Linked DNA regions of Homo sapiens: region 2 is linked to region 1. A link means that fine-mapping ties the variant in region 1 to the plasma level of a protein whose gene starts in the linked region. Region 1 holds a variant in brackets. A gene starts in the other region. All regions are shown on their forward strands. Region 1 overlaps LOC105378250 (a long non-coding RNA gene). Region 2 holds the start of FABP9 (fatty acid binding protein 9).

Evidence for each region. PIP is the posterior inclusion probability: the model's chance that the variant is causal. Protein levels are from antibody-based Olink assays in UK Biobank. Linkage for the fine-mapping came from a reference panel and not from the study's own genotypes, which makes the PIPs less certain.
Region 2: it holds the start of FABP9, and the variant in region 1 is fine-mapped to the plasma level of the FABP9 protein (UK Biobank, PIP 0.97).

The regions. Positions count from the first base shown.
Region 1 is chr12:53,822,809-53,831,518 of GRCh38, forward strand. The region is part of intron 1 of LOC105378250 (a long non-coding RNA gene); the gene reads left to right. Among named protein-coding and RNA genes, the nearest start is that of CISTR, 75 kb to the left of the region's middle. The variant C/T (reference allele first, on the strand shown) is at 4,970.
Region 2 is chr8:81,458,640-81,467,297 of GRCh38, forward strand. FABP9 (fatty acid binding protein 9) reads right to left here and starts at 2,940. Exons shown (of 4, transcript NM_001080526.2): 1 at 2,812-2,940; 2 at 526-698; 3 at 1-64. The coding sequence starts at 2,884. LOC101927118 (a long non-coding RNA gene) reads left to right here and starts at 2,819. Exons shown (of 9, transcript XR_001745980.2): 1 at 2,819-3,335.

The DNA.
Region 1 (8,710 bases):
CCAGGCTGGTCTCAAACTCCTTGGCTCAAGTGATCTTCCAGCTTTGGCCCCCCGAAGTTCTGGAGTTATAGGCATGAGCCACCACACCCAGCCTGTAATCCTCTGTGGCTAAGTAGACACAATGTGATGAGGATATGTATATCATAGAAATTGATCTTTGATATTCTTCTAAAAGTCTTTCTTTGTTCAAAACACAGAAAGGATGACTTGTTGTGCTTCATTGATTTATTCAACAAATTGCCTTATTTTTATTGCTACTATTCTGGACAAGGGATGCAAAAATGAAGAAGATAAGGTCTTTACCTTTTAGGTGCTTTCAGGTTGGTGGGAAGATAAAGAAGTAAACCAGAATTTACAATAGAGCATGAGAAGAGCTGTGACAGAGGAGTGCCTAGGGTACTGGGATAAAGCAGTAGACACCTAACTCTGGTGCAGGGAGATGTCATTTATGGGCCCAGCCAGCAGCAGGGGAGAGTGGTTGTGACAGCATCAGACTAAGGCTAGCCACTAGGAAGACCTTCTCAGTTAGATTGTGATTTCTCAATCTATGCATTCATGCACAGAATGGTCACACGCTAAGTACTATGTGCCAGTCACTACGCTAGCTCTTATTTAGAGTGGTGGACAGAGAATACAATATGCTAAAGGCTGGGGTAGAAGCTGACACTATCTCAATTAAAGCCAGTTGAAATGTTATGCTGCTCAGAATGTGGAAGAGGAAAAAGGAGGATAATTTCAATGACTTACCCTCTTACTCCTTTCAAGTCTGTGAATAGGTTGATACAAATTCCGCTGCGCAGTTTATTTATCATCTGGAATCCCAGCAGTTGAAGGATCCGGAATATATCAAACTTCCTAGGTCTCTGTTTGGACACCCTTCCTAGTTCAGGAAGCAATTAGTCTGAGAGAGACAGAAGTGAGAGTGTAGGAGCAGAATATATATCCTTTTAAAATAATTTAGTAACAACTCTAGGTAAGTGACCAATAATTTATAGAGTCTATTCTTTTTATAGAGATATTTCCTTGCTGCTCAACCAGCGAGCTTGCTGGGTTTAGAGGATTAATCTTTGACGTAGTAAATATGCTCAAGTTGTAATTCAGTCTCAGGGATAAAGGGAACTTAGACTTGTCTTGTATAAGGGAAAAAATATTAAATGGATTTGTTGAGGACCCGCCGTGGTAGTCCTTATTGTCTCTTGTACCTCAGCATTGCAGCTTTGGAACTGCAAGGGACCTTATTAATCTTCTCATACAATGTCCTTATTTTACAGATGAGGAGACTGAGATTTATGGTACATGAGGTGGTGGCAGATCCAGGGCTGAAACCCGTGTCTCTTGACTCACACTTTTGAAACTGCACTGTGCTACTGCGCATCACAAACTCTAGCCTCACTTGCAAGGCTCCCCTTAACCGCCTTCCCCTCGGTTCTTTTCTGTCCCTTCCTGTTGTCTATTTTCGGCAAACTGAGCTCCTCCCTGGCCTCCTGTCCATGCCACACGTTTTCTGCCTCTGAAACCTCCTGTAAGCACTCCCCCTCCTCAGGCTGGATTGCCTTTACTTTTCTCTCCCTTCTGCTCCTTGCTTCCTCTCCAACCCAATTCCACACTCCCTCTTGCAGGAAACCTTCCCAAAATAACCCCTTCTTACTTGGAATATTTCTTGACTCTGCATCTTTTCAGCCCCATTGTTGGTTTATACTTGCTGCTGCTTTATTGCTTAATAAGCATTTTGAAGTCTTTTTTTTTTTTTTTTGAGACAGAGTTTCACTCTTGTTGCCCAGGCTGGAGTGCAATGGTGCAATCTCGGCTCACCGCAACCTCCTCCTCCCAGGTTCAAGCAATTCTCCTGCCTCAGTCTCCTGAGTAGCTGGGATTACAGGCATGCACCACCATGCCCGGCTAATTTTGTATTTTTAGTAGAGACGAGGTTTCTCCATGTTGTTCAGGCTGGTCTAGAATTCCCCACCTCAGGTGATCCGCCTGTCTTGGCCGCTGAAAGTGCTGGGATTACAGGTGTGAGCCACTGTGCCCGGCCTCTGAAGTCATTTTTTAGATATTTGTGTTCTGTCAATTTACTTAGATGAGGAACTTCTTAAGGGGAAGGCCCCTCAGAACACACACGGGGAGCTTATACTGCTGCCTGACTAGAGCTAGACCTGGGATAGTCTGAGAAAGTTCAAATGACCTCTGCATTTCAGGAAAGAAAAGAAGACTGTCAACTTAGGGGTAGTGGGAATGCTGATCCCATTTAGAGGCAGTTGGCACCTATTTGAAATTCCTTCTTATGGTTATTTCCAGTCCTGGGATTCTGTAACCCTATGAACCAACTTGGTTATGCCCTTGCCTGATCTTGATGCTATTACCAATTTTGTGGCCTGTATTAAATAATAAGACATCCCATAACTAGTAGGTGGCAGATTGGTGTGTCCACTGCAGGTTATAAAATAAAAAACTAGCTTGGTGGAGGGACCTTCCTATGTGTAATGCATTGTTAGGTAGAGCACCTGGCTGCCCAATGGATAACCTCAGTTGCTGCCTGGAGGCCTCTACCTCGGGGAAGGGAGGCCTTGAGAGCCATTTTGACCCAAGTTCAAATTCTCTAGAACAAACAAGCCGATCTCTTGCTCCAAGCTCCAGTCAAAGAGGCTCCAGTGTGTTTATTGACTCTTGCATGACCCTGCCCTGGAGAACAAACAAACAGCTCAACCTGACTCATTCCCTCCACCAACTATACTCAGGTCCATTGCTGGGGTTTGCCAGAAAAATCCCTCAGGCCCTGTGGAAAATTAGAGAGCCAAAGGTTAGGGCTCTCTGGTCATATATTCCTACTCTTTCTTCCCATAGAACGTTAACCCTCCCTGGAGGTGCAGAAGACTAGCAGTGACTTCCAATTCATTTGACTTGGGCCCTCTCCATTGCTTGAGGCAAATCAGCTTGCTTCACTGATTCATTCATTTGACAAATATTTATTGAACACCTGCTATATGTGAGGCTCTCCTCTCTTAGGATGGGAGCTTACTGATTTTTGCTATGGAGAATGCTGATGCTTCCATCTTTATTTATTTATTTACTTATTTATTTATTTATTTATTTGAGACAGAGTCTCGCTCTGTCAACCAGGCTGGAGTGCAATGGTGCGATCTCGGCTCACTGTAACCTCCACCTCCTGGGTTCCAGTGATTCTCCTGCCTCAGCCTCCCAAATAGGTGGGACTACAGGTGTGCGCCACCATGCCTGGTTAATTTTTGTTTTTAGTAGAGACGGGGTTTTGCCATGTTGGCCAGGCTGGTCTTGAACTCCTGACCTCAGGTGATTGCCCCCCTTGGCCTCCCAAAGTGCTGGGAATACAGGTGTGAGCCATTGCGCCCAGCCCAATGCTTCCATCTTTTAACTAAAAGGTTTGAAGTACCCTTTTCCAGACATCTTGTAAGAATAACAATACATTTTCTCTCCCTTACCACCATTGGAAGAACTTAGTTCTGAACCCAAACCATCTCCTTTCATTAAGCCTTTGGTGGATCATTTTTACTCTTGGGATTTCATCAAGCCCTGCTCCCCATTTTCCCTCACAGAAGAGGAGGCAGCCTCTTGCGCGTGTATGTGTGCTCAGCTTATTCCTTCTCAATGATTTTTAAAAAGAAGGAACCCAACTCAGCCCCTCCTCCTTGTTGTGTTTAAGGGAGTGCTGTTTCCTAAACTGTGTAATCCTCAAAGCACTGAGGTTTCACCTAATGTTAATAAGGGTTTCTTGAAAAAGCATTGAATCAGGTCATTTTAGGAGACAGTGAATGAGACAAAATTAAAATCTTAAGCAGCAGGGCTTCTCAGAACCTTTAACATATTAATATTCATTTGAAATCTCAAGAGGGAGACATCATTTGCAATATTTTCCAAATTATTAGACCATGGAAGCCACTTTTAAAGGAAAACCTCTTATTCGTTCTTGGGACATTAGCATTCCATTAAATTCAGTTTGAGAAATGCTGATGTAGTAGCAGGAATATTGAATTAAGAGACAGGAACCTGAACTTGCATCCCTCTTTGACACTCAGTTTTGTGACTCTGGAAAAATCACTTCTCCTCTATGGACCTCCATTTCTTTACCTGGAAAATGAGAAGGCTGAATTAAATTATCCTTCAGTCCTCTTCTAGTTCTGTACAAAGGCATCCACAGGTAGGCCCAATCTCCTAAGAACCAGAAACAAAATCTTAGGTGGATATCTTGACATACCAGTAAAGGATATACAAATAATACAATAAAGCTTTAAACCAATCTGTGACTAAAGAGAGCTGGAGTAAATGCATTTTACAAGAAAGGAAAGATATTTGTGGAAAGAAAATATGGTTGTTCCATATGCAGCTGAATGTCTTAAGGGAAAGATCTGAGAAGGCTGCTTGGAAGAGGAGCATTGGTATCAAGAGAAGAGAGCATACTCTCTGCTGACAGGAGTGGGTGTGGAGAGGTGGGGTATCCCTGGTTTATGGGGCAAACTACTTGGTTGATAATTCAAAGAGAGTTGAAGAAAGTTCATCTGGGAATTGTGATGGAATAACCCAGATCCTGGGAGTCAATAAAGGTAAAGGAGCTTGACCTGGAGCACCTAGGAAGGTGGGTCAGTGCATATTTCATTCCCAGTCATCTGTGGTGAGGTCAAGGCTCCAGGGTGCTTACAAAAGACATGTGCATATGTGGATGGCCTTGGAGACAGACAGGTTCCCTAGTGGGTGGCCCAAACCTCTTGCCTCTTCTTGCATTGTGTGTGATGGGCTAGAGCTCTAGATTAAATCCATGCCTATGAGCACTGTCACTAAGAGAAGATAAGAACTATGAGCAGAGATGCTTATCTTTATAGCTATTCTGGTTTGATTTATATATATATATATTGTGTGTGTGTATGTGTGTGTGTGTGTGTGTGTGTGTTGGGTCTATATGCACCTATGTGTATGAATGTGTTTTTATGTAAGTGTG[C/T]GCTTGGACATGTATGTGAAAATGTGACCATGTTTTATATGTATATATGGGTCTGCAAAGTGCTTATATGTCTACCTAGGCTGTGTCTGTGGTAAAAAAAAAGTGAGGTTTAATTTTATGTATGTGTGTAAAATGGTGTGTACACTACATGTGCATATGGATAGTGGTCTAGTTTATATATTTGAGGCATGTATTAATATTATATTCACATTCATATTTATGTGCGAATGTTTATATGTATTTATATGTCTGTATCTTAGGTTGCATCTTTTTGAACTACTTATTTTTATATTTCTTTGTATTTAGGGGTGGGATTGTTTCCTGAATTCAAAAAGTGTTTATTGAGAGCCTACTATGTGCAGGGTATATTCCTATGTATGTATGTGGGGTGTGCCTAAGTCTATAAATATGCTTGGAAGGTACACATGCCCTTATGTATATGCCATCAAGTTCATTAAATGCTTAAGTGTATACTGATATCCTCACCTATCTAATTTTTTTTTTTTTTTTTGAGATGGAGTCTTGCACTGTCGCCTGGGCTAGAGTGCAATGGCACGATCTTGGCTCACTGCAACCTCCGCCTCCCAGGTTCAAGAGATTCTCCTGCCTCAGCCTCCCAAGTAGCTGGGATTACAGGCACCTGCCACCACACTCGGCTAAGTTTTTGTATTTTCAGTAGAAACGGGGCTTCACTGTGTTGGCCAGGCTGTTTTCAAACTCCTGACCTCATGATCCACCCGCCTTGGCCTCCCAAAGTGCTGGGATTATAGGCGTGAGCAACCGCGCCTGGCTACCTATCTAATTTTTAAATCCTCTATTAAATGTCATCACTGTAATCTCTTCCTAATTATTTTTTGGAAGAAGCAGGAGATAACTAAAAAGATTGAGTATGAGCATGTGTATGCATCTAATGCAGGTATGTCTGTGTGACGTAAGATTGTGCCCTCTTTATTTTTTCATTTATTTTCATTTTCGACCTCCTGCTAGATCTTTGTGCCATCTCACTCTAAGCACTTCTTGCTCCCTTACAGCTTGGAAAAATACCTAAGACACTCATTCACCACTATGAATGAATGCCTTGTTTTCTCTTCCTGGTGTGTCCAACCCAGGAAGAAAGGATGAGAGACAGTTAACAACTGATATTAAGCTCTAGCTGTCTAAGAAAATTTTTCTTTTTGCCTCTCCCTGGCCCTATCTTGTCTATCCTTCAACCAGTTCTCCTAATCCCTCGAAAGAGAGACACAGGTTTTCTTTTCCCCAGAGAAACCAGAGGGAGAGGAAGAGAGATTTTACTCCAAGGGAATCTGCTCCCATTTTATGGGGTTTGTCAATAATGTTCCTTCATTAAGATAGCATCTCAGAATGAAAGAGGCCTCTGCTCTTCGTGAAAAGAGTTGTTTTTTCTTAAGGGGGGAGTGTAGGGGGCATTAAATAAACCTGTTTGTTAAAAAAGTACCTTTGCAGCAGGAAATGTGTTATTATTGTAATTGTCTGATGCTAATTATACTTATTACTATAATAACCATTTTGTTGTAACAAATGATGTAATCCTCTTCATTTCTGTCACTGCCAGAGGCAGAAGTGAGTGGAGTGTCTATAGCAAGAGGGGGTACTGGGGGGTGTTCTTGGTGGGGAGGTGCAGTCAGGCCTAGTGAAGGTGGGGAGCATGTGCTGGTGGCTGGCTTTGCTGCTGAGGAGGTGGGAGATGCAGGGCAGAAGATACCTAGACTGTTTCACTCCCCAAGCCTGCTTTTCTCTGGAACTCCGTTCTAGGGCCTTTCCTGAAAGCATTTACTCATTCAGTCAGACCTCCGTTTATTAACTCAACAAGCACTCATTTAGTACCTGCTGTGTTCCATATGTTAGAGTCAGCCCTAGTGATATAGAGTAAACCAGATAGGATTTTTACTGCTGAGATGTTCACAGTCTAGTGGTGGAAAGTGTTTGTAAGCTTGCAAACATTATTTTCAGTGCACTAGAATAAGTGTGGTATAGAGTATTTAGAGTGCTATGAGTATATGCATAGAAGAGGTGACTTATTCTGGGTACAGAAGCCTGAAAAGCTGGATCTTTTGGAGGAACACTAGGAGTTTGCAGCACAGAGAAGGGAGTTAGCATGTCCAGGGAGAAGGAACTATATTACTAAAGGTATGGAGGCATGATAAAGGCTATTTGTTTTTGTTAATATTAATAATAATTAAAAAATGATAAAAATAGCTCATATTCATATCATACACTGTTCTAGGAACTTGCATGTGTTGATTCACTTAATCTTCACAACAATGCTATGTAGTTGCTCTGTAGTGAAAATTAAGTGATCAATAGATGCAAAGTGCTTAGAACAGTGCCTGATATGAATAAGCTATTTTTATTATTGTTTTGTTATTACTATTTAACATATGCAAAAACAGAGACTTAGGTTGAGTAACTTGCCCTGTTTCACATATACAGTAAGCAACAGAGCTTAGGTTTGAATCCCAGTTCTGAGTAGAGCTCCAGTTTTCAGCCACTCTTGTAGTTAGGATATGGAGTGCATGCTAGGGAGGGGTGGTAATTTGTAATGAGACTGCCAAATAGTTTGGGGCTAGAGTGTAAATGGCCTTGTATACCATTAGAGGTTTTTAAACAGAGGAGTAACAAGATAGGACCTGCATTTTAGAAAGGCAATTCCCCAAAACTAGGACTGTGTGGACAACAGGCCCACTGGATCTTCCCATCTCAAAGTGAAGCTGAGGGTTCAGCTTCTAAAATAGCCAGCTCTTGGTCATCGCATTCAGCTCCACAGTTGATCCAGCCAACTGAGCTGCAGAGCTGCTCTAGCTGGCTGCCTATGAGAAGTGGAAGGAAAGAGAATTGGAGCAACTATCAGGTTAATAAACTCTGTGGAGAGAGCCAAACCAAATTTCCAAGGCCCCACGATTAGTTTGTCTAAATGAAGCACAACAACATAATGCTGATAGGCCTGACTTCCTTTAGTGTTAATGGACCTTACAGATCTTCTCTAACTTCTGGGCTGTGGCCTTGTCTGTCTTGTTTACCACAATATCTCTAGTACCAGCAGAGGGCCTGCCAATGGTACATGTTGATAAATCTATGATATGAATGACCAGTCACTTGTCCTGGAGCTCTGGGTACCCCAAGCTTGGCTGAATGCTCCCACAATTGAGTCATTATTAATTAAAGAAGTAGGCCAGGCACGGTGGCCCACACCTGTAATCCCAGCACGTTGGGAGGCCGAGGTGGGTGGATCACGAGGTCAAGAGATCGAGACCATCCTGGCCAACATGGTGAAACCCCATCTCTACTAAAAATACAAAAATTAGCTGGGCATGGTGGCATGTGCCTGTAGTCCCAGGTACCTGGGAGGCTGAGGCAGAAGAATTGCTTGAACCCGGGAGGCAGAGGTTGCAGTGAGCTGAGATTGCGCCACTGCACTCCAGCTTGGTGATAGAGCGAGACTCCGTCTCAAAAAAAAAAAAAAATTCCTCCTGTTGTCAGTGCCCTTCTCTCCATTCCACCACACACACACAAACATATATTCTCCCCACTTATCACTTCGAGGTCTGTCTTTTCACCATAAAGGAGTGCATCAAAGATAATATTAATAATGGCTAGTAGTCACTGAATGCCTACCAGTGCCAGGCATTGTTCTAAGCCTTTCATGTGTTAACTAAGGTCTTACAGCAATTGGATGAGGAGATACTATTATCATTCCCGCTTTATAGATCAGGAAACTGAGCT
Region 2 (8,658 bases), not on the chromosome of region 1:
TTGTCTCTTTGCCAAGCCATTTTTGGACGTGAATCATTGAGCCATTCTCTAATGTTATGGTGCTCTATAAATGCATAAAGAAATCAGAAGTAGCAACTCACTACCTTCTAACCTACATGAGACCACATATCTACTTTTTAATTTCTATTTTGAAATTCTTTTCTTAAAATCCTCACTTTTGTTGTCATGATGTAGTACTATCAAACTAGAAGTCTCAAGAGATTATTCAATTAGTGCTCTTTCCTAGGCAAACAATGCATAAGCTATTTGTGTTTAGTTGTTTCTTTCTATGTGCTCTTTCATATGACAAAGAGATAAGAAAAAATGAAATGAAAACAATTTGAATCTTTTAGCCCTATTGTTAACCATCAAAATAATTAGCAAAAGGATTAACTTTAGAGATGTGCGACTATTAACAGAACAAGCCCAGACAGACTTGGTGATAAATCAAATTACAGTAAACCATGCCTAACCACCTTCTAACTTTTTCCTGATTGTTGAACACCAGGAAGAATTAGTTCTGACCTTTACTTTCCGGTTGTCTGCTGTAGTTTCATCAAATTCTTCCCCCAGCTTGAAGGAGATCTTAGTGTCCTGGAAAGAACTTTCTGTTCTTATGGTCATCATTTTCCCATCAACACTAATAGTTACTGTCGGTTTCACTAACCCTGCCATGTTCCGGGCTGCGAAATTCACTCCTACAAGACAGAGATAGCCTTGGACCTTATTAAGACATTGTTAACAATCACTCTGGAAGTCAATTTTCAAAGAATGCTTACTTTACCTATTTTGAAATTTTGGATAATGTATAGTAACTTATTTTATGTTTTCTGTGATATCAGGGCTGAGCTAGATCCTCCCAGTCATAAGGTATATATGTGACATTTTGAAAAGCTAAATTCACTCTCTGAGACTATTACACTTCCTCTAAAATGTAAATTTGTATGGTGCCTTTCAAGAGATCAAATGCTTGCACTTCACCTTGTGGAGTGTTACGATAACCTTGTGGGTGCGGGAGGAGTTTGACTTAGAGCCTGGCCCTGTGGTTTGGTTGGGAATTTCCCATTGTCAAACTTGACTCCTGCAGTTGGTGGGCAGAAGAGCTGACTCCTTCTCTGTCCTGATATCAAACTCCATTTCACATTTAGATTGTGGAACTGATATGACACATCTTACTGTAGAGAAGCAGTGTTAGACATCTGCATCACAAAGAAGAGTGAGATGGTTAAAACCCAGGCTCTAACTTGGCCACTTGCTAGCTTGGGCATATTATTTACCTCTCCTAACCTTCAGTTTTCTCAATAGTAAAGTGTGGATAACTGTATACTTGACCTCGCAAGTTTTTTTTTTGTTTGTTTGTTTGTTTGTTTTTTGTTTTGAGACAGAGTCTCGCTATGTTGCCCAGGCTGGAGTGCAGTGGCACAATCTCAGCTCACTGCAACCTCTGCCTCCCAAGTTCAAGCGATTCTCCTGCCTCAGCCCCCCGAGTAGCTGGGATTACAGGCACATGCCACCATGCCCAGCTAATTTTTGTATTTTTAGTAGAGATGGGGTTTCACCATGTTGGCCAGGCTGATCTCGAACTCCTGACCTCAGGTGATCCACCTGCCTTGGCCTCCCAAAGTGCTGGGATTGGAGGCCTGAGCCACTGTACCCAGCCAGCGGATGTTTTAAAAGGTTAAATGAAAGGGGTTAGCATGGTACTGGCACATAGAAACTGCTCAGCTGTTATTCTTGCTTGTATTATGCCTAAACCCAGCTCCCAGTCAACACAAGTGCTACTCTGGCCATAAGGCCCAAGTTTTTTATATACCCCCCCAATTTTTATTCAAAACAAGTGAGTCTATAAATCTATGAAGAGACAGAAAAACTTGTTTCTTATGACCCTCTGAGAAAGTGAATATTGACTACATCAGAGGAACAAATATTACATTTATAAGCACATTGACTTATTATGGGGATAAGGCATTGTTATTTCATTGTCTAGAATGAGTAAACATAATTAATAATTGTAAGCATCCATTAAGCATGTTATGTAAGTTAAAAAAAAGTAAAGATAAGAAAGTCCTTGGCTTTGTATACAGTTTACTACAAGGGAGGTTTCTCTTAATTAAATATGAAAAATATGAAATAATTGCTGTTCTTCCATTAGTAAAGAACAGTTTAGCTATTATACACCCAAGTCATTATAATTAATGTGTAACTAAATGACTTGAGTTAGAGATTAAAGGATTGGTAGGGTTTATAATTCTGAGGAATATCCAGTGGTGAGACATTCAATGAGTAAAAATGTTGTGTTTCTTCAGATTTGTAATTCTTCAAAACCATGTTTATAAAATATCTCTCACATTTATGAGAACTCTAAAAATTAACCAACTAGAAATTTTGTTAGTTGATACTGCTGTTTTAAAGCTATAACTTAAACCTTGAAACAAATTTAATTGATCAATTTAATTGTAGGTAGTGATTACTGTCTATAAATTTGAAGCTGGGAAAAATGTTATTAAATGAAATGACCAAGCTAAAATGAAATTCTATCTAGAAGTTAGGTGAAGTATTTTCAAAAAGGATAAATGGGCTTAAATATATGGATCATGACTGGACAGAGGTGTCTGTGGGCCTAGTCTTCCAAAAAGAGACAATTATTACTAGTAATTTAAAAAAGCAAAAGTAGAAGCATACATTGTGTTAGTCTATATACCCTAGGATCACAAAAGGAAGATAATTGTAGGAAAATTCATGGTAAAGTACAAACCCAATCACATCACAAAATGCTTTGCCAATTTCCAAATTTGTAATGGTATTTCTCACCCAGTTCTTTCATGTAATCCTCAAAGTTTTCACTGGAGACCAGCTTCCAGGTTCCCAAGAAGGGCTCAACCATCATGGAACACTTGCTGAGAAGAGCCACTCGTAATTGAAAACCAAAGAAATATAGGCATTACGGTGCTGCCAGTAGTTTAATTTAAAGAGCGTCTTCATCACGTGACTCTTCTGAAATGGCCAATGGGCAACAGCAGCAAGACTAAAGATTCTAGGCACCAGCATTTGACTCATTTTATTTACCTCCAAATTAAGAGACAGAAAATTAGCATGTAAAATTAAATTCTGGTCAATGATTTTAGCTTCTAGCAAAAAGATTTACACCCAAGTCACCTGACAAATATTACTTGTGGAACGGAGACAATCTTCAATAGACATCAGCTTTTTGAACAATGAATACTGAGTCAACCCTGGAGGAATATCCTGACAAATTGATAAACACCTGGCTGAGATGTTTTCCTACCTAAGACAAGAAATCCTTGCTTGGTCCACCTCAGCTGTTTTTTGTTTGGGTAAGTCACAGTGCTCAAACATCCTCTTCATTAAAATAATATCTTCCCTTCCCTTCCTTACAGGGTTGATGGGTTGATATTAGTTAATGTAACTAAAATGCCTATAATTGCTTGGAGGGAAATGGAGGGTATTATTAATATATTATCATTGTTGTTAATCGAAGGTAATTGAGGACAGGAAAGAAAGGTGACAATTATCATTGGATAATAGTATATGATTTAAGCTCTGAAAAGGAAGCAGAGCGAATGCCTACAAAATTCGTCTTTCAGGCTTACAAAGTAAACTCTACATTAAAAGATATTTTAAATTATAAGAAAAAATTTTGGCAAGTTTCATATAGAAAAAGATGTTTGGAATCTGCATTCTAAAAGAAAGACAAAGGCAGCAAATGGTTTCAATCTCTGTGCCATTACTTCTGAAACCATCTTCTGCAACCCCAATAATGGAAGTGGACTTTGCAGGTACTGAGTTTAGTAAGAAGGAGTAGATTCAGTAGCTGTTGATTTACATTACGGTTTTGAACTCCAGTTAACTTTAGAAGATGTTGGAAAGTTAGTGTCAGGGACCAGAAGAAGAATATTTATATTTTTACCTGCTTTGTATGAAGTATTTATTTAATTCAGAAAATATTGTTTGTGAACAAAATAAACAGGAGGTTGATATTTTGGTACTGTAAAACAATAACTTAAGTGGAATAAAGGATGGCTTTTGATGAAAACATATAAAGAAGAAACATATAATGTGATATCTTTATGGGTGGGACAATTATTAAATTATCTACAGTGCAAAACAGGGTAAGTGAAAATCCTGGAGTTAATTTCAGGAAACTAAGACCCAAGCTCAAAATAAGTGCCTCAGCAGTTGAAAGTGCATTCAGAGGTGATGTTCAAATATAGAGCAAGTTGTTAAACGTTTGCTTAACTGGTTCGAGATGTGTATGCACTCTCTGCTTTAAAGAAAGCAAGCATACATTGCTATGCCTGTTGGCCAGCTGGGTAGTGTAGCAAAGGTCTCCCATCAGCATAATCTTCCTTGTTGTTTTGATTCTCCTGTCATAGAATGATATTCCTGTGGTCCGTTTAGAACTCAGTTGGCCCATGAGACAAAAGCTAACATCAGATTTCTGGTTTCAATTATCCTCAGCAAACTAACGCAGGAAGAGAAAAACACCTCATGTTCTCACTTATAAGTGGGAGCTGAACAGTAAGAACACATGGACACAAGGAGGAGAACAATGCACACTGGAGCCTGTTGGGGCCAGGGCTATGGGGGGAGGGAGAGCATCAGGATAAATAGCTAATGCATGTGGGGCTTAATACCTACGTGATGGGTTGATAGGTGCAGCAAACCACCATGGCACACATTTACTTATATAACAAACCTGTACGTTCTGCACATGTATCCCAGAACTTAAAATAAAATAAAATAAAAATTCTGGCTTCTGTAAAATTCCCCACCCCTAGGAGAGAACCAAAGGGAGAGACAGTCTCTCTTTTGCCTCTACACATTTTTCTATCTCACGTGATATTTACAAGTGCTGCATCCATTGTGTTACCTCCTCAAAGATGGGGCCAGAACTGAGGATAGCAGAGCAGAAACGTGGAAGGAACTGAAGGCCACTTTATTTCAAAAATTTATATTATGTTAGTTAATAAATTCCATTCTTATTTAAACAGTTTTGTCTCTGAGCTTTTGTTACTTGTAGAAGAAGTCTTCATAATTACTACGCCTTTGTAAATAGCTTCACCAAATGGTGAATTTGGACCTTCACAACAACCAGTTGCATGAATCACATAGAGCTGGCCTCATGACAGCAGAGACCCATCTTCCTGAACCAACTCAAACATCTCTTTCCCTGTGACACTGGTTCAGAGCTAGATAATCCCCATGGCGTGAAGATAGAAATAAATGTTTAAGAGAAGTATATTAGCTTATTTCATAGTACTGCAAAGAGCTATTTCCCAGCTGTCTCCTGAGCTATTCTATGAGTATATCAAAAAAAGAAAATATTTTCCACTCACTTCTGTATCCTTAAGACAGTATCTGGCATATCATAAGTGTTCAATAAATGTTTTATGGATGAGTGACCAAAGAAATAAGTAGTATTTTTTTTAACTGGTAATTCTCATTAGTGTTCTTTATCTCTCTAACAGTGACTAAAGACAGAGTTTTAGTACATTATCTTCTCCTGACCTGGTCCTATGACAGGCCTTTTATTCTGGTCATTATCAGATGGTGGAGGGATGCTCAGACTCTCTTCATCTTTCTCAGTTATATAGCACAAGTCTCCCTTCTCAACTAAGAAAGTTCTCTGCTATTTCTGTTGCTACCACCGCTAGCCTTTGGCACTTTGGTTTGATTATATAAAAAAAGTGAACACCATTTCCTCAAGTAGAAAAAAAATTTTTAATCAGATTGTTCCTAATGTTAATCCTAGTAAAGGAACTAGAATACTGTAGTTTGTTATAGAATAGTTACATGTCTTGTTCTTATGACAGTTTCAAGGCTCATTTCTCCAATATGTCATTTTTCTATGAACTTTCAGCATCTCATTTTCTATATTGATTTTCTTGTGACATTTTAAGACATCAAGTAGTTTTGAATAATTTTTAATTTTGAGATGCTATGGTTGCCACTGATGATGGATACTGGTAAAGTTAAACATATACTGGAAGCTACACAAGTATTCAGAAATATGTCTGATAATTTATTGTTGCACATATAGTACTTTAGCTGGATTTGATAAAGCATCTAAGATTCTTATTTCCACATGCAGTGACACCTCTAAGTATCATATTCCTTACTGTGTTCATCATTCAATTTCAATTTTAAAGATGCAATAATATAATGACTTTTCAAAGTGTACATTTAATCTAGGACTCTGAAAAGTAATTATTTAAAATTTTTCTTTTTAAGACGATATTATATTATCCAATAAGGAAAACAAGTATTTTGAAATTAACTTTGGTTAATAGTCTGAATGTGATATTTGTCATTGAAATAGTCTTCCATTTGCTAGTATTTTCTACACTAGAGGAATTGATGTTATAATTTCAAGAGACTATTTGCTTAACATAAAAGATATATTTTTTTAAAACATCACTTTTTCCAATAATTTTTTTATATATGGGGCTTATAAGAGAATTTTTACATTGTTTTTACTTCTGGATCACTTCACTTATAATAAAAATTTTACTTAAAACAACCATACCAAATTAACTCTGAGCAAGTAATTGTTTTAATATGACAACTTCCAGTTTATTTTTACTAGTTACAAAATAAGTCCATCTCTTATCTATTATTTACTGCTTAATAGGTATATATAAAAATAGCAATTTCTTTCTTTTGTTTTTGGTGAAGGTTATTTATTTGAAGTGCTCACTATTTAAGAGCATATGGAGGCGGCTGACCACCTTGAAAATTCACCTGTAGTAGGACTGTTCCTTTTTTTTTTTATTTTTAATTTTACGTTAAGTTCTGGGATACATGTGCAGAATGTGCAGGTTTGTTACATATGTATACATGTACCATGGTGGTTTGCTGCACCTATCAACTGTCATCTAGGTTTTAAGCCCTGAATGCATTAGGTATTTGTCCTGATGCTCTCCCTCCCGTTGGCCCCCACCCCCTGACAGGCCTCAGTGTGTGATGTTCCCCTCCCTGTGTCCATGTGTTCTCATTGTTCAACTCCCACTTATGAGTGAGAACACGTGGTGTTAGGTTTTCTGTTCCTGTGTTAGTTTGCTGAGAATGATGGCTTCCAGCTTCATCCATGTCCTTGCAAAGGACATGAACTCATTCTTTTTTAAGGCTGCATAGTATTCCATGGTGTATATGTGCCACATTTTCTTTATCCAGTCTATGATTGATGGGCATTTGGGTTAGTCCAAGTCTTCGCTAAAAAATAGCAATTTCTTTCTAAGGAGTTATGCATATCATATTTATTAACATGTAAAGAATTTTTAGGCAAATTCATTTTTTGGCAATTGATATTTTCTCTTGTTTCATGCCACCTTCTTCCCCTAACTTTATTCTATTTGGTTGAGGTTTTTTTTGGTTACCTTTTAAATTTGAAATAATTACAAAAACACTTCCCGAACAACACAGAAAACTCCCATATATACTCTTTGCCCAGATTTCACAATTGTCAACATTCCAACACTTTTGTCCCTACCTCTCTCTATCTCTCTCCCTCCCTCCCTCCCTCTCTCTCTTCATAAGAAGCAAGCTGTTTGTTGCTCAGTCATTGAGAGTAAGTTGAGAAATGTTGCCCCACTCCTCTCCAAACAAGGATCTCAATCAGGAAATCAACACTGATGGCAATACTGCTATCTAATCCACAGACCCCACTCAAACCTTACCAATTGTCCTGACAGTTTTTCCTTTTCCTACTAAAAAAAAGGGAAAAAACCCAGCCTTTCTGACCCAGAATCCTGTCCGTGATCATGCGTTGCTTTCAGCCATCATGTCTCTTTAGTCTCCTTCAATCAGGAACAGATCTTTAGTCATTCCTCATCTTTTAGTACTGGAGACACTGGGGAAAAAAATCACTGTTCTAAGCAAGAGGCTGGGTCATCTGCTGAAAACTGACAAGTAATTTTTACATGAAAACTGAGGTCAGTAATGCTTCAGACTTTGAAAGGAGTATATCTAAATCAGAAATTGTAGCCCTTTGATGGCTAGAGTGGGAATTAGGGAAGAGGGGATAGCCAGCTCATTACTTAACCTGATCCTGTGTTTCTAAAGAGGGAGTGACTGGCTTTTTGGACTATTCATATCTGCTTCAAGATATAGGTGGACTCTATGACCACACTGTGGGTTTTGGAGAGGTACTCACTTAATCCTGCCTCTCTTCCTTTCAGAGTACAGTGTCCTCTATGCCTTTATGTATGTATTGATAGAAACAATGTCAAAAAGTGGAAAATTATATGAGCTTCACAGAGATCCCAGGCAAGATAAATGGGATAAATTGGGGAGCTGTTACTTGAAGATCTTTCTTGGATGTATCTATGGACTTAGTTTTATGGTGAAAATATAGGAACGTGAATTTGACTTATCTATCAAATTTATATTGAACTGGATCTTCTTATTCTATGATTCCACACCAATTGAAAAATAATAATTAGACTTGAAGACTACATTTTCAAAAATGACTAAATTCACAAATATACCTACATAAACGGACTTTGTAAAGGATTAGCACAGAGGCAACATTAGGGATGAGGAAGGCTTGAGAAGAAGGGAGTGGGAAAAAATGAATTCTGCCCAGGAAGAAGCAGAATGTAAAGTACAAAACAAACAGAAACCTTGAGGCAAGAAAGA